Linked DNA regions of Homo sapiens. Each later gene encodes a partner of the first gene's protein in a complex. Each region holds a gene or a part of one and is shown in the gene's direction. Other genes may lie near its edges.

Region 1 (7,484 bases):
TTTTCCAACATATGTTTACTTCATGTCTGTCTCTGTTTCACATTTTGGTGGTTCTCACATTATTTCAGACTTTTTCATTACTATATCTGTTATGGTGATCTGTGAGTAGCAATCTTTGATGTTGCTGTTTTGTTTTGGGGTGCCACCAACTGCATCCATATAAGATGGTCAGTTGATAAATGTGCATATTCTGGCTGCTCCATCAACTGGTCATCCCCATCTCTTTCCCTCTCTTTGGGCCTTCCTATTTCCTAAGACCCAATAATCACGAAATTAGGCCAGTTAATAACCCTACAATGGCCTCTAAATATGTTCAAGTGAAAGGAAGGGTAGCACAACTCTAACTTTAAACAAAAGCTTGAAGTGATTAGGTGTACAGAGAGAAGCATGTTGAAAGCCAAGATAGGACAAAAGATAAGCCTCTTTGCCAAACAGCCAAGTTGTGTTAAAGGAAAGTTCTTGAAGGAAATTTAAAGTGCTACTCCAGTGAACATATAAATGATATGAAAGTGAAACAGCTTTCTGGCTGATGCGGAGAAAGTTTTTGTGATCTGGATAGATGAAACCAGCCACAACATTCCCTTAAGCAAAAGCCTAACCTCCCTTCAGTTCTGTGAAGGCTGAGAGAGGTGAGGAAGCTACAGAAGAAACGTTTGAAGCTAGCAGAAGTTGCTTCATGAAGTTTAAGGAAAGAAGCTGTCTTTCCATTCCATTAAAGTGCAAGGTGAAGCAGGAAGTGCTGATGGAGAAGGTACAGCAAGTTACCCAGAAGATCTAGCTAAGATCATTGATGAAGATGGTTACACTAAACAACAGATTTTCAGTGTAGATGAAACTGCCTTCTATTGAAAGAAGATGCCACCAAGGACTTTCATAGCTAGAGAAGAGAAGTCAATGCCTGGCTTCAAAGCTGCAAAGGACAAGTTAACTCTCCCTTTAGGGCTAATTCAGCTGGTGATGGTAAGCAGAAGCTCATTTACCATTCTAAAAATCCTAGGGCCCTTAAGAATTATGCTGAATCTACTCTGCCTGTGCTCTGTAAACGGAAAAACAAAGCCTGGATGACAGCATATCTGTTTATAGCTCAGTTTACTGAATACTTTAAGCCCACTGTTGAAACCTGCTCAGAAAAAAAAAAAATTTCTTTCAAAATATTACTGCTCATTGATGATGCACCTAGTCAGCCAAGAGTTCTGATGAAGACGTATAAGGAGGTTAATGTTTTTATGCCTGCTAACACATCTACTCTGCAACCCATGGGCAAAGGAGTAATTCAGCTTTCAAGCCTTATTATTTAAGAAATACATTTCATAAGACTATAGCTGCCATATAGATAGCGATTCCTCTGATGGATCTGGGAAAGTAAATGAAAACCTTCTGGAAAGGATTCACCATTGTAGATGTATTTGTAGGCCAGGCACGGTGGCTCGTACCTGTAATCCCAGTACTTTGGGAGGCCAAAGCGGCAGATTGCTTGAGCCCCAGGAGTTCGAGACCAGCCTGGGCAACATGGTGAAACCCAATCTCTACAAAAAATACAAAAATTAGCTGAGCATGGTGGTGCGTGCCTATATTCCCAGCTATTTGGGAGGCTGAGATTGGCGGATCACCTGAGCCTAGGGAGGTTGAGGCTGTAGTGAGCCACGACCATGCCAGTGAACTCCTTCCTGGGCAACACCGTGAGACCCTGTCTGGGGCGGATGGTGGGAGAGGAACATTTGTGATTGGCCAGGCATGGTGTTATGTTCCTGTAATTTCAGCTACTCAGGAGGCTGAGGCAGGAGTACTGCATGAGCCCAGGAGGTTGAGGCTGCAGTGAGCCATGATCACACCACTGCACTCCAGCCTGGGTGACAGAGGGAGATCCTGTCTTAAAGAAAAGAAAAACAAAAAAGAACATTTGGGTCCGGGCATGGTGGCTTACACCTGTAATCCCAGCACTTTGGGGGGCCAAGATGAGTGGATCTCTTGAGCTCAGTAGTTCGAGATTAGGTTGGGCAACATGGTGAAACCCCATCTGTACCAAAAGTACAAAAAAATTAGTCGGGCCTGGTGGCACACACCTGTGGTCGCAGCTATTCGGGAGGCTGAGGTTGGAGGGAGGATCACTTGAGCCTGCGAGGCAGAGGTTGCAGTGAGCCAAGATCGTGCCACTGTGCTCCAGCCTGAGTGAGAGAGTGAGACCCCAACAAAAAAATACACAAAAAACATTTGTGATTCATGGAAGGAGGTCAAAATATCAACATTAAATAACAGGAGTATGGAAGGCATTGAATCCAGCCCTCATGGATGAGTTTGAAGGGTTCAAGACTTTAGTGGGGGAAGTACTTGCAGATGTGATGGAAACAGCAAGATAACTAGAATTAGAAATGGAGCCTGAAGATGTGACTGAACTGGTGTCACTCATGAGGAGTTTGCTTTATAGACAAGCAAAGAAAGCAGTTTCTTGAGATGGAATCTACTCCTGGTGAAGATGCTGTGAACATTGTTGAAATGCCAGCAAAGGATATGGAATATTACTTAAGCTTAGTTGATAAAGCAGCAGCTGGGTTTGAGAGAACTGACTTCAGTTATCTTATTTTAAGAAATTAGCATAGCCATCACAACCTTCAGCAGGCAACACCCTGATCAGTCAGCAGCCATCAGCATCAAGGAAAGACCCTCCACCACCAGAAAGATGACTTGCTGAAGGCTCAAGTGATTAACATTTTTAGCAATAAAATATTTTTAAATTAAGGTATGTATATTGGTTTTTTAGACATAATGCTGTTGCACACTTAATAAGTGACAGTGGTATAGTGTAAACATAACTTTTATATCCACTGGAAAACCAAAAAATTTGTGATTTTATTGTGATACCTGCTTTATTGTGGTGGTCTGAAATGAAACCCACAGTATCTTTGAGGTATGCCTGTATGTGCTTTTACTTCTGAAGTCCAGCCAACATTATTTCTCCTTCCTTTCTGTCTTCCTGCCATGTCTTCTGTACTTTTGGAAACTATGCACTTGTGCAGACATTGTGCTCAATACTTTGTTTCTTCAGATGCCATCATTAATGAGAACTATGACTACCTGAAGGGGTTCTTGGAAGACCTGGCACCTCCAGAGCGCAGCAGCCTAATTCAGGATTGGGAAACATCTGGGCTTGTTTACCTGGACTATATTAGAGTCATTGAAATGCTCCGCCATATACAGCAGGTACCTGAGATCCTGAAACTGCTGCCTGATTTTCCTTTTCTCAGGCCCTTAAATCTTCAGATACCTCACAAGGCCTTAGTATACACTTGAGAATGCACTGACAGAGATAGCACTGTCAAAGCAGGCATCTTGCTGAGGCTCATTTGATATAACCGTTTCTGACAGCTATATCGAAACTTAAAAATGCTATTTTATGTTGATTACCAACTAGTATGTGCAATAGACATTCCTGAGGCTTGTCCATAGACAGTCTCTTCCCCTTGTTCAGTCCTAGTTTGAGTGAGAAGCCCAAAGATGAGAGATAAAATAAGAATGGAGATTTGGTGAGGGTGAGGATAGCTGTTTTACACATCATTTGGCATGTTTTAAAATTGCAAATATGGGTTTTAAAGTCAATGTCTTCGGTCAGTTTTTTTTTTTTTTTTTTTTTTGGAACAGAGTCTTGCTCTGTCATCCAGGCTGGAGTGCAGTGGTGTGATCGTGGCTCACTGCAACCTCTGCCTCCCAGTCTTAAGTGAGTCTCATGCCCCAGCCTCCCAAGTAGCTGGGAGTATAGGGTGTGTGCCACCACACGCAGCTAACTTTTGTATTTTTAGTAGAGATAGTGTTTCACCACATTGGCCAGGCTGGTCTTGAATTCCTGGCCTCAAGTGATCGGCCCACCTTGGCCTCCCAAATTGCTGGGATTACAGGCATGAGCTTACCGCACGCCTGCACGCAGCCTTAAGGTCAGTCTTTGTAGTCGTAAAATGAGTCTCCACTGCTTGCTTATGGTGCAAAAACCAAACTCATTATAATAAATATAGGATTCAAGTCCTTTTAGAGGCTTTTACCTTTCCTGCCTTACTCCTACCACTCTTATTCCACGTTCCAGCCTTGCTAGCCTGCTGTACTCACACTAAATTACTTCTGGTGTTTCTAACAAACCATATTATGTTCCACACTACCTAGCACACTTAAACTCATCCTTTTAAGATCTAGGTTGCTGTTACCCCTACTTCTCTCTGCTTTTCCCCAGAGATAATTAATTGCACTTTCTTACTACCAAGATACTTAGTACATTATTCTACTAGTGCACCTGTCAGACCATATTGTAGTTACTTATTCATATTTTCAGGTTGCTATAAGCCCCTTTTGGGAAGGTCTTTTACGGTTACAGGCAATAGAGTGTAGAGGTTAACAGCTCAAGTTCTGGAAGCAGACTTATAGATTCAATTTGTGGCTTCCAAATTCACTGGCTATGTAATCTTGAGCAAGTTAACTACCTCTCTCGTCTGAAAGAAAAAGGTGGGTGGGGTAGACAGTAGTACAGATTATAGTTCATATTGACAGATTTTCACAAAGATTAAACAAAATCTACATGAAGTGTTTTACATAGTACCTTTCATGTACTAAATGCCTTTTTTTTTTTTTTTTTAGGCAGAGTTTTACTCTGTCACCCAGGCTGGAGGGCAGTGGCACAATCTCAGCTCACTGCATCTCCCAGCTTCAAACAATTCTCCTGCCTCAGCCTCCCCAGTAGCTGGGATTACAGGCGTGTGCCACCACACCCAGCTTTGTGTGTGTGTGTGTGTATTTTAGTAGAGACGGGGTTTCACCATGTTGGCCAGGCTGGTCTCAAACTCCTGACCTCGGCCTCTACTAAATGCTTAATAATTGTTATCTATTATTATCCTCATCAAAGTTCCAACTCCTAGTACAGTGCCTGGCACATAATAGACATAATTCAATGTTTGCTGTACTTTTAGTATGAATCAAGAACATCATTTCTAAATAATCACTTGAAGAAACCACTTTCTCATTGAATATTGAGTAATTCATTCACACAACCTATTATGGAGAACTCACTGTATGCCAAGCACTGTAGTGGGTTTGGGGAATATAAAGGTAAACAGTATGTGTTCTGCCCTTACCAAAATAATGATTTTGTGGGGGAGATACATACAAGTAAAGCAGCAATTACTATAGCTTGATAAGTATAGGGATTAAGCAAAGGGTACTATCAATGTGCCAGCACATAGCTGGATGTGGTGGTGCATGACTGTAATCCTAGTACTTTGGGAGGCTGAGGCAGGAGGATTGCTTGAGACCAGCCTGAGCAACATAACGAGACCCCCCTTCTCCCAAAAAAAAAAAAAAAAAACCTATGTTACATAAAAACTCTCTAGTATTATCTTGTTCTGCTTCTTCTCCTTACCCTACATGTCACCATGTAAATCTCCTTTGAATTCCCACCTTTGGGGGTTTTAGCTGTCTTCTCTTTGCCTGGAAAGCTGAGCTCTCTCCTTGTTATTCAGGTCTCAATTTAAATATGACCTCCTTAAAGAAGCCTCTCTTGGTCCTCCAGTCTCAAGTAGCTATCCAGTTTCTCTCTGCCACATCCACCTGTTTAAATTATCTACATGGCTTGTGATTTTTCAGGATTTATTACTGTTTTGTGTTTTCTTATTTATTTTCTATCAGTTTCATGAGAGCAAATAACCTGTCTTGCTCTTGATCCTCCTGCCCCCTGCACACAGCTTTTTTGGTGTTTTAGAAAAGGCTATAAACTTGGAGTCAGGGGACCTAAATTAAATGTTGGTTCTGGCTGCATTTTTTACTTCCTTGTGTGCTCTTTAGAAGTCATACCATCTCTCTGAACCCAATTTATCTTGATTTTTGGTGCTGTGTTATTAAAGCTTGCTGTATAGTTCGGGATCTCAAGACTTTTCCTAGTCCAAGGCTAGGTAACTGTGTTACCTTCCTCTTGGCTATTACTGCATAATTAGTGCCTTGTCCTCCACTAGATGGTGGTGGCTTGGCCCTGTGTCATCATCTTGGATTTTCCCCTCCCTCACCTCACTGTTGTTTCAAGGTTTTGTGTAGAGTCTATAGGTGGGATTGGAGTGATAGGAACTCCCCTTGGATTAATTGGCTTCTCTGCTTCTTTGTAGGTGGATTGCTCAGGTAATGACCTGGAGCAGTTACACATCAAAGTGACTTCACTGTGCAGTCGGATAGAGCAGATTCAGTGTTACAGTGCTAAAGATCGCCTGGCTCAGTCAGGTAAGCCTCTAACCTCCTCACTCTTTCTGCCTTCTTGCTTCCTGTTTTTATGATTATTACACCCCACCCTCAGTGCCTACCACCCTTCTCCAGACCCCATGCTCAGTGCTTGACTCTAGTTTTTCTCTCTAGACATGGCCAAACGTGTAGCCAACCTGCTGCGCGTGGTGCTGAGTCTGCATCATCCTCCTGATAGAACCTCCGACTCAACACCAGACCCTCAGCGAGTCCCTTTGCGCCTCTTGGCTCCCCACATTGGCCGGCTTCCCATGCCTGAGGACTATGCCATGGACGAACTGCGCAGCCTTACCCAGTCCTATCTGCGAGAACTGGCTGTTGGGAGCCTGTGAGCCCCAGGCACTTTGCATCACAGTCACATGCCCATTCACACCACACAGAGGTTCCCTGCCTTGTTTGGATTGGCACTGTTTGCCATTCTCTGGGTTGGCTGTGGCATCTACCCTCCCTCCCTGCTGCCAGAAGCAGCATCCTCCACTTGTTCAGGGCTTTTCTTAATACTGAACGTAGCATAAGGGCTTCTGGAACCCAGAAGAGGAGACAGTTTACCATCCTCAAGATCATTCAGTGTTTTTCCTTTAAAAAAATGGTCAATAAAGCTCCTTTGGCAGAATCCCCCAAAGAACCAGGGTATTCTTTTTCCATCCCTAGCCATTCTGGATCTTGTGACCCTCCATGCCAACCAGCTTCCCTACTCCTACCCTGGCCCTTTTATACTAGGACTCCTTAGGAGGAGTGAGACAGGTGATAATGGATCCTTAACAGATGAACTATCCACAGAAGGAAGAGGGATCCGTCTCTTAAGTAATTGGTTAGTTAACACTGAATTTTGGAGGCAAAGGAGGGTTGGCCTGAGTTAGGAAACAAAATGGGATCTTTCTGACACACTTAGGGCAGAAGTGAATGCCTGTCACGGAGGGATTGATCTTCAGGGCTGTTTTTGTTCCTGCCTTTAGAGTTCCATGAACACCATACCTTTGCTACTACTATGTGCAGGAACCCTTGGTCACATGTGACATGTCTGTGGGAAGCTCCCAGAGTTTGGTTTGGTCCCTGGTTTTCAGTCTTGCTGAGACTCTGTCTGGATTTGCCTGCAGAGTTTGGATAAAAAATGGCAGGTTGGGTAACCCTCCCTGTTCATCCCATGTTAGCTCCAAAGCATTTCCCACCCTCCATCTACCCCTTCCAGAAGCAAAAACAAACCATGACTGAGGCAGGCATGG
Region 2 (7,000 bases), on another chromosome or scaffold:
CCCCAAAGAATAGAGAATTGCTAGGGTATATAATTGGGGGAAGGCAGCGAGGGATGAGGATAGTAAGGGTGGCAGTGTCTGTTCTATGGAGAGCACCCTTTATAGCTCTGTCAAAACATGAGCATCTTATTCTGTAGGGGATGGAAGGTGTCCCTGATGGACTTAAGGCAGGAAAGCATTTCAGAAAGACCTCCCTGACCATGGGGAGGTTGATTGGAGGAACAAGAAGGCTTAGTCGGCGTGCAAGTCAGAGAAGGGGCGAGAGATGAGGGTATGACTTTGCAAAAGGTTTGAGAAGTAGAGCTTGAGATTGGCTGAGTGTTGAGGAGGTGAAAGGGGCGCTGGGGTGACTTGAAGGTGGTTCCTGGCTTACCTGACTGTGTGCTAATTGTTTTACGAAAAGAGACTGGGAACCCACGAGAAGGAAGCATTGGTGGTGGCAGTGGCTAAGGAGAGAGAAGTGATGAGTCTGATTTGGGACATGTGTAGTTTGAGGCACCCATGAGTCATCCAGGTGTAGGTATTAGGTGGACAGTTGGAAATACTGGCTTGGGAAAAGAGTTGGGCTGGACATAGAGATATGAGAATCCCCTTTGTTTTGATAGATTAGAGTCCTCCTAGCTCACTTATTTGCCTTGTATTAATGTCTGTTAATACCTCCATCTCTTCTCCCCTGAATAACATAACGTTTGAAATATTTTATAGCTTTATACTTTTTTATAGCTTCAACTGTGTCCTCAAACAGCTAGATCCCCCATACACAGTTGCTAAAAGCCAGAAGAAACTTTCTCAAACCTTGCCAAAAATTCCTACATTGATCTGTTAGGTACACCAAAGTTATAGTCTTCTCTTCCTTCCTTCATTCATTTAACACATATTTATTGAGCATTAGGTGCTGTTGTTCAGTGTACTGGGAATGGGGCTGTGGACAGACCAGACAAGGTTCCCAGACTCAAGGAGCCTGTTAGGAGACAGACAATAAATGAACAAACAGGTAGGCATGTGATGCCAGAAATTGATAACATACTACCAACGAGGTAAAACAGAAATGTGGTAGAGTGGACGGTGGGGCTGCTTTAGCTGGGGTGTGCTGAGAAGCTTCTTTAAAAAGGAAACCTTTGAGCAGAGATTTGAAGGAATTAAGGGGGTTAGCTAGGTAGGTATTTTGGAGGAGAATATTCCTGCAGATGCAGAGGAAACAGTGACTGAAAGCCCAAGTCAGCAGTGTATTTAGCATATTTGAAGAAGAGTGGAAGGCCATAGGACCAAAGTACATAATCCTGGGGAAGAGTGGTAACAGAAGGAGTTGGGTCGGGGACAGTCATGTAGGCCTCACAGCACAGGGTAAGGACTTTGGATCTCAGCCTGTGAGTGACGGGGGCTATTGAAGGTTTGAGCCCCTTTAGAGGATCCTTCCCAGTGTGGTGTGGAGAACAGACTGGGAAGTGGGAGGGGACAAAGTAAGAACAGGGAGACAGGAAGCTACTATATCACCCAGATGTGACACATGAGAGTGGCTTGCACCAGGATGATAGTGGTAGAAGAGACAAAAAGTGGGTCTGACTCATGTATATATGAATAAATGTAGTGTAGAAATGAATTGCTAATGTAGGGTATAAGAGGAGAAAAGAAGTCAAGGACAATGCCACGGTTTTAGACCTGAGCAACTTCTAGCATGAAGATACTATTTACTGAAATGAGGAAGATGGGGAAGGTCCAAGTCTTTGTTAGATGCTAGAATACGGCCTTCCTCCCCCTAACCCCTCCCACTCCATGCACCCTACTGTCTGTGCCCATCTCTATCTTTCTGACACGGCTGTTGCCCTGCTGAAAAACCTGTGTACCAGTTGGTCCCTTTGGACACCAGAGGTCTGCTGTGAGGATGACATTAGATTATACAAATAAAGCCCATAGTGGGGACTCATACACAGACAGAGCTCAGGAGATGATGTCGGGCAAATAAATGAATGGAGTAAAAGGAATTTAGATGAGGGAAACTTTCTGTAGGTAATGTGTATTGAGGAAGACCATTTGGTAGGTAGGACTTGAGTTGGTGGTAATAATGATAGCTAATGTTTATTGAGTGGTTACTTTGTGACAGGTGAGGGAGATGCAGTTATTTTTCCATTTCACAGATGAGGCCCAGAGAGAGTAATTAATTTGCCCAAAGTCATCGAGCTAAAGAGTGAAGGAGCTGGCTGGAGCTCAGGGCTGCAGTGGAAGGTTGGGTAGGTGTTTCTTTTTGGGAAAAATGGCACAGAGCAGGACATGTGCAAGGATAGTCAGGGACCAAGTAAATCAAGTGACTGGTACACAAGGTTTATTCTGGGAGGTAGAAAGTTAAAAGCAGTGACTCACCTGGATGGATCCCTGTGAATGGGAGCCAGTGAGGTTTTTTGAGCAGGGGCAACAGCCGTGTCAGAAAGAGAGATGGGGTCGGGCGCAGTGGCCCTCGCCTGTATTCCTAGCACTTTGGGAGGCCAAGGCGAGCGGATCACTTGAGGTCAGGAGTTCGAGACCAGCGTGGCAAACATGGTGAAACCCCAAAAATTAGCTGGGCATGGTGGTGCGTGCCTGTTATCCCAGTTACTCGGGAGGCTGAGGCAGGAGAATCGCTTGAACCTGGGAGGTGGAAGTTGCAGTGAGCTGAGATCTCATCATTGCACTCCAGCCTGGGGGACAAAAGTGAAACTCCGTCTCAAAAAAAAAAAAAAAGGAAGCTAGAGGTGGCCACAGAGAGTAGGGTGCATAGAGTTGGGGGCAGGGCTAGGAGGAGGAAGCCCATGTTCTAGCATGTAAGAAGGACTTAGACTTAAAGGAATGAAGGTCTGGCCTTAGGTGGTAGTGATGGGGATGAAAGCAATAGTTAGAGGATGTTGCAAAAATATAAATACCCCATGCTATTTAAATCTGTTTAGGAGCTGGGTGCAGTGGCTCACGCCTGTAAGGCCAGCACTTTGGGAGGCTGAGGCAGGCAGATCACCTGAGGTCAGGAGTTCAAGACCAGCCTAGCCAACATGGTGAAACACCATCTCTACTAAAAATACAAAAATTACCCTGGCGTGATGGCACGTGCCTGTAATCCCAGCTACCCAGGAGACTGAGTCAGCAGGAGAATTGCTTGAAACCGGGAGGTGGAGGTTGCAGTGAGCTGAGATCACGCTATTGCACTCCAGCCTGGGCAACAAAGCGAGATTCCATCTCAAAAATAAATAAATAAATAATCTGTTTCGGTAATGAGAGTTTGGAGAGTGAGGAATATCATGTTATCTGAGTCTGTAGTATTTCGTTTCCTGAGTTTTAGTTAGAGAGTAGCAATAGTTTGGATAATGAGGAATACCTGCCTGCTTGCTATGGAAAAATGTATCTACATGTGTTTGGTTTCTGAGTCTGAGAGTGGAGGGACACCTGTAAGTAAACAATCTGAGGTAACACAGAGATGCAAAGGAACAGGGTGAGTTAGAACCTGGGAGACAGAAGCCAGGGGCAGAGGCGGAGGAGGAGTTGGGGGTGGATAACTGCATTTGGAGACATGGTGGGTGTGACAGTTATGTGCTTGAGAGGAGATGCACCAGTGGTGCCTGGAAACTCACGGTTGGAGTTTGAGTGCACGGGGGCAGGTGTGGATTTGACAGTCATTGCCATTGAGTCTTCAAGGGCAGTGGTGAGACACACACTGTGAAGTAGGGAATTTAGAGCAATATTAAAATTAACAAGTTATTAAAAATTATGTAAGATCACATATACTCATGGAAAAGAATTTGCCCTGACAAGGGAATCAAATGAAAAGTAGAAAAGTCTCCCAACTCTCACCTTGGTAATGCTAGGTTGTTTCTTGCTAAGTCAGTGCTTTGTTTCTTGCTATTCCTTCTAAAAAACTGTGAGTCAACCTTAAGTATACAGCTTAGGGAATTTTTACACATTTATTCACTTATGTGACCACTGTCCATATTGAAATATAAAGCATTTCTGGTACTTTGGTCAGCTCAGATCACCATAATAAAATATCAAAATATCTGTTGTTCTGGCTTAAACAGAAATTTATTTCCTCACAGTTTTGGAGGCTGGAAGTCCGAGATCAGGATGCCAGCATAGTTGGGTTCTGGTGAGGGCCCTCTTCCTCGCTGCTCAGTGTGTAGTCAAGACCTTTCTTTGATGTGTATGTGTGGGGAGAGGTAGGTGGAGGAAAGCAAGCTTTCTGGTGTGTCTAAGGGCACTTATCCCATCCTGAAGACCCCACCCACGTCACCTCATCTGAGTCTAATTACTTCCCAAAGACCCCATCTCCAAATAGCATCACATTGTGGGGTAGGGCTTCAACACAGGAATTCTGAGAGAATACAGTTCAGTCCTTAGTACCCGAAAAGCTCTGCTGTGCTTTCTCCCAATCAGCACTCCCCCTACACTCCCAAGGATAACCAGTATTCTGATCTTTAGTCCCATAGATTCATTTTTTCTGTTTTTAAGATCCATATAAATGGAGTCATACGGTGCTTTTTTTTTTTTCTTTTTGTATCTGGCTTCTTCAGCTCATTGTGATGTCTGTGAAATTCATCCATGTTCTGTGTAGTCTGTAGTTTCTTTTCCATTGCTGTGTGTGGTATACCAAGGTATGAATATACTGCCATAAAAAGCCCAAGTGGGATAATTCTGTAAATGCAATGGTTTTAAAATTATAATGGTAGGGACCCAGACTTTTGTTAGAATCCGCACACCTTCTGCCTCCCAAGTTGTGACAACCAAAAATGTCTCTAGCTATTGCTGAATGTCCCCTGTGGGGCAAAGTTGAGTAGCATTGGTTTAGAGAGAAGAGCCAGAGCCAGAGCCAAAGCCACAGGCCCTTTGGGGCCGACTTGGTGATCTGCCCCTGTTTATGCTAGTTGTAAGACAGAACTAGTATCATTCCTAAGGTTCTCTGTAGAGATAATTTCCATCACCACTAAAATGGGGCTGTTTCCCAGGAAGCATCAAGTAAGTTTAAAGACCGAATTAAAACATCTCACATTTGTAAATTCTTTAAGGTGAGCAGGCCCTTAGAGATCACCTGAGCAACCCCCTCATCCAGAGACGATCCAGCCCCAGGGTCAGAGGGCTGGCGTGGGATGGAGCCAAGCTGTAGTCCACAGCACTTTCTTCCCAGCTGGGCCTTCTGCTGGACAGCCAAGAGTTTATCAGAAAGTTACTATGTGGATAATTTATTTTTCTTTGTGATGCCAGGTTATTACTTCTCTTTGCTCATTGAAGAGGAAATAATACAAGTGATATTTTATGTATCAGGAAAGCTGATACTACCCATTCCTTATTGCAAACATTGAGTCACTGAGGGCAGTACTGCTACTAAATCACCCAAGTCTTTTTCTTCTGTCTAGGTTAATTTATTTTAGGTCTTTGTTTTCTCCAGAACTCTACCTTTTGAATAATGATAAGGTCTCTTTTACTTAGTCTCACAGGGCTGTAAAGAACTTTCCAACAATTTTTTTTTCCCTCTCCTCTCTCTTCCAGAGGCATCTGAAACAATGATGTCTGTCAAGATTTAATTTTTTTGGGGTTGTTGTTGTAATTGACAGCTGACAGATAATAGTAAAAAGTGGAATGATATTGTCATCTAGCTAGTTTATGTATTCAAAAGAGAGGAGAACAGAATCAGTATTAAACTTTTGATACCTTGGGTGGAGGTTTTTCTCATCAATCTTGGATGAGAAAAGAAAGAATCATTCACAAGAATGTTGAACACCATTCTTGTGTTTTACTCCTGTCATAGTCTGATTAATAAGGTTTGAGGGCAGAGTTTCTGCTTAAAATTAAATGCTAAATTTCTTTTTTTTTTTTTTTTGCACCGCCCTTAATCCATTTAATCCTGAGTGGACAACACAGCACATGTTTCAGAGAGCACAGGGTTGGGGGTAAGGTCACAGATCAACAGGATCCCAAGGCAGAGGAATTTTTCTTAGTGCAGAACAAAATGAAAAGTCTCCCATGTCTACTTCTTTCTACACAGACACGGCAACCATCCGATTTCTCAATCTTTTCCCCACCTTTCCCGCCTTTCTATTCCACAAAGCCGCCATTGTCATCCTGGCCCGTTCTCAATGAGCTGTTGGGCACACCTCCCAGACGGGGTGGTGGCCGGGCAGAGGGGCTCCTCACTTCCCAGTAGGGGCGGCCGGGCAGAGGCGCCCCTCACCTCCCGGACGGGGCGGCTGGCCGGGCAGGGGGGCTGACCCCCCCCACCTCCCTCCCGGACGGGGCGGCTGGCCGGGCGGGGGGCTGACCCCCCAACCTCCCTCCCGGACGGGGCGGCTGGCCGGGCAGAGGGGCTCCTCACTTCCCAGTAGGGGCGGCCGGGCAGAGGCACCCCTCACCTCCCGGACGGGGCGGCTGGCCGGGCGGGGGGGCTGACCCCCCCCCACCTCCCTCCCGGACGGGGCGGCTGGCCGGGCGGGGGGCTGACCCCCCCACCTCCCTCCCGGATGGGGCGGCTGGCCGGGCGGGGGGCCGACATCCCCACCTCCCTCCCGGACGGGGCGGCTGGCCGGGCGGAGGGCTGACCCCCCCACCTCCCTCCCGGACGGGGCGGCTGGCCGGGCGGGGGGCCGACCCCCCCACCTCCCTCCCGGACGGGGCGGCTGGCCGGGCAGAGGGGCTCCTCACTTCCCAGTAGGGGCGGCCGGGCAGAGGCGCCCCTCACCTCCCAGACGGGGCGGCTGGCCGGGCGGAGGGCTCACCCCCCGACCTCCCTCCCGGACGGGGCGGCTGGCCAGGCGGGGGGCTGACCCCCCCACCTCCCTCCCGGACGGGGCGGCTGGCCGGGCGGGGGGCCGACCCCCCCCACCTCCCTCCCGGACGGGGCGGCTGGCCGGGCAGAGGGGCTCCTCACTTCCCAGTAGGGGCGGCGGGGCAGAGGCGCCCCTCACCTCCCAGACGGGGCGGCTGGCCGGGCGGAGGGCTCACCCCCCCACCTCCCTCCCGGACGGGGCGGCTGGCCAGGCGGGGGGCTGAC

Evidence for each region. Proteins that work in one complex are often made in the same cells at the same time.
Region 2: NUP98 (region 1) and NUP93 share a complex: the UniProt entries of both Homo sapiens proteins name them as parts of the nuclear pore complex.

Annotation. Positions count from the first base shown.
Region 1 is NC_000011.10:3,675,268-3,682,751, reverse strand, and holds part of NUP98 (nuclear pore complex protein Nup98-Nup96 isoform 1 precursor), read left to right. Parts: intron 1-3,043; coding exon 3,044-3,198; intron 3,199-6,131; coding exon 6,132-6,243; intron 6,244-6,375; coding exon 6,376-6,593; 3' UTR 6,594-7,484. UniProt on the Homo sapiens protein: Plays a role in the nuclear pore complex (NPC) assembly and/or maintenance. NUP98 and NUP96 are involved in the bidirectional transport across the NPC. May anchor NUP153 and TPR to the NPC.
Region 2 is NC_000016.10:56,733,129-56,740,128, forward strand, and holds part of NUP93 (nuclear pore complex protein Nup93), read left to right. Parts: intron 1-7,000. UniProt on the Homo sapiens protein: Plays a role in the nuclear pore complex (NPC) assembly and/or maintenance. May anchor nucleoporins, but not NUP153 and TPR, to the NPC. During renal development, regulates podocyte migration and proliferation through SMAD4 signaling.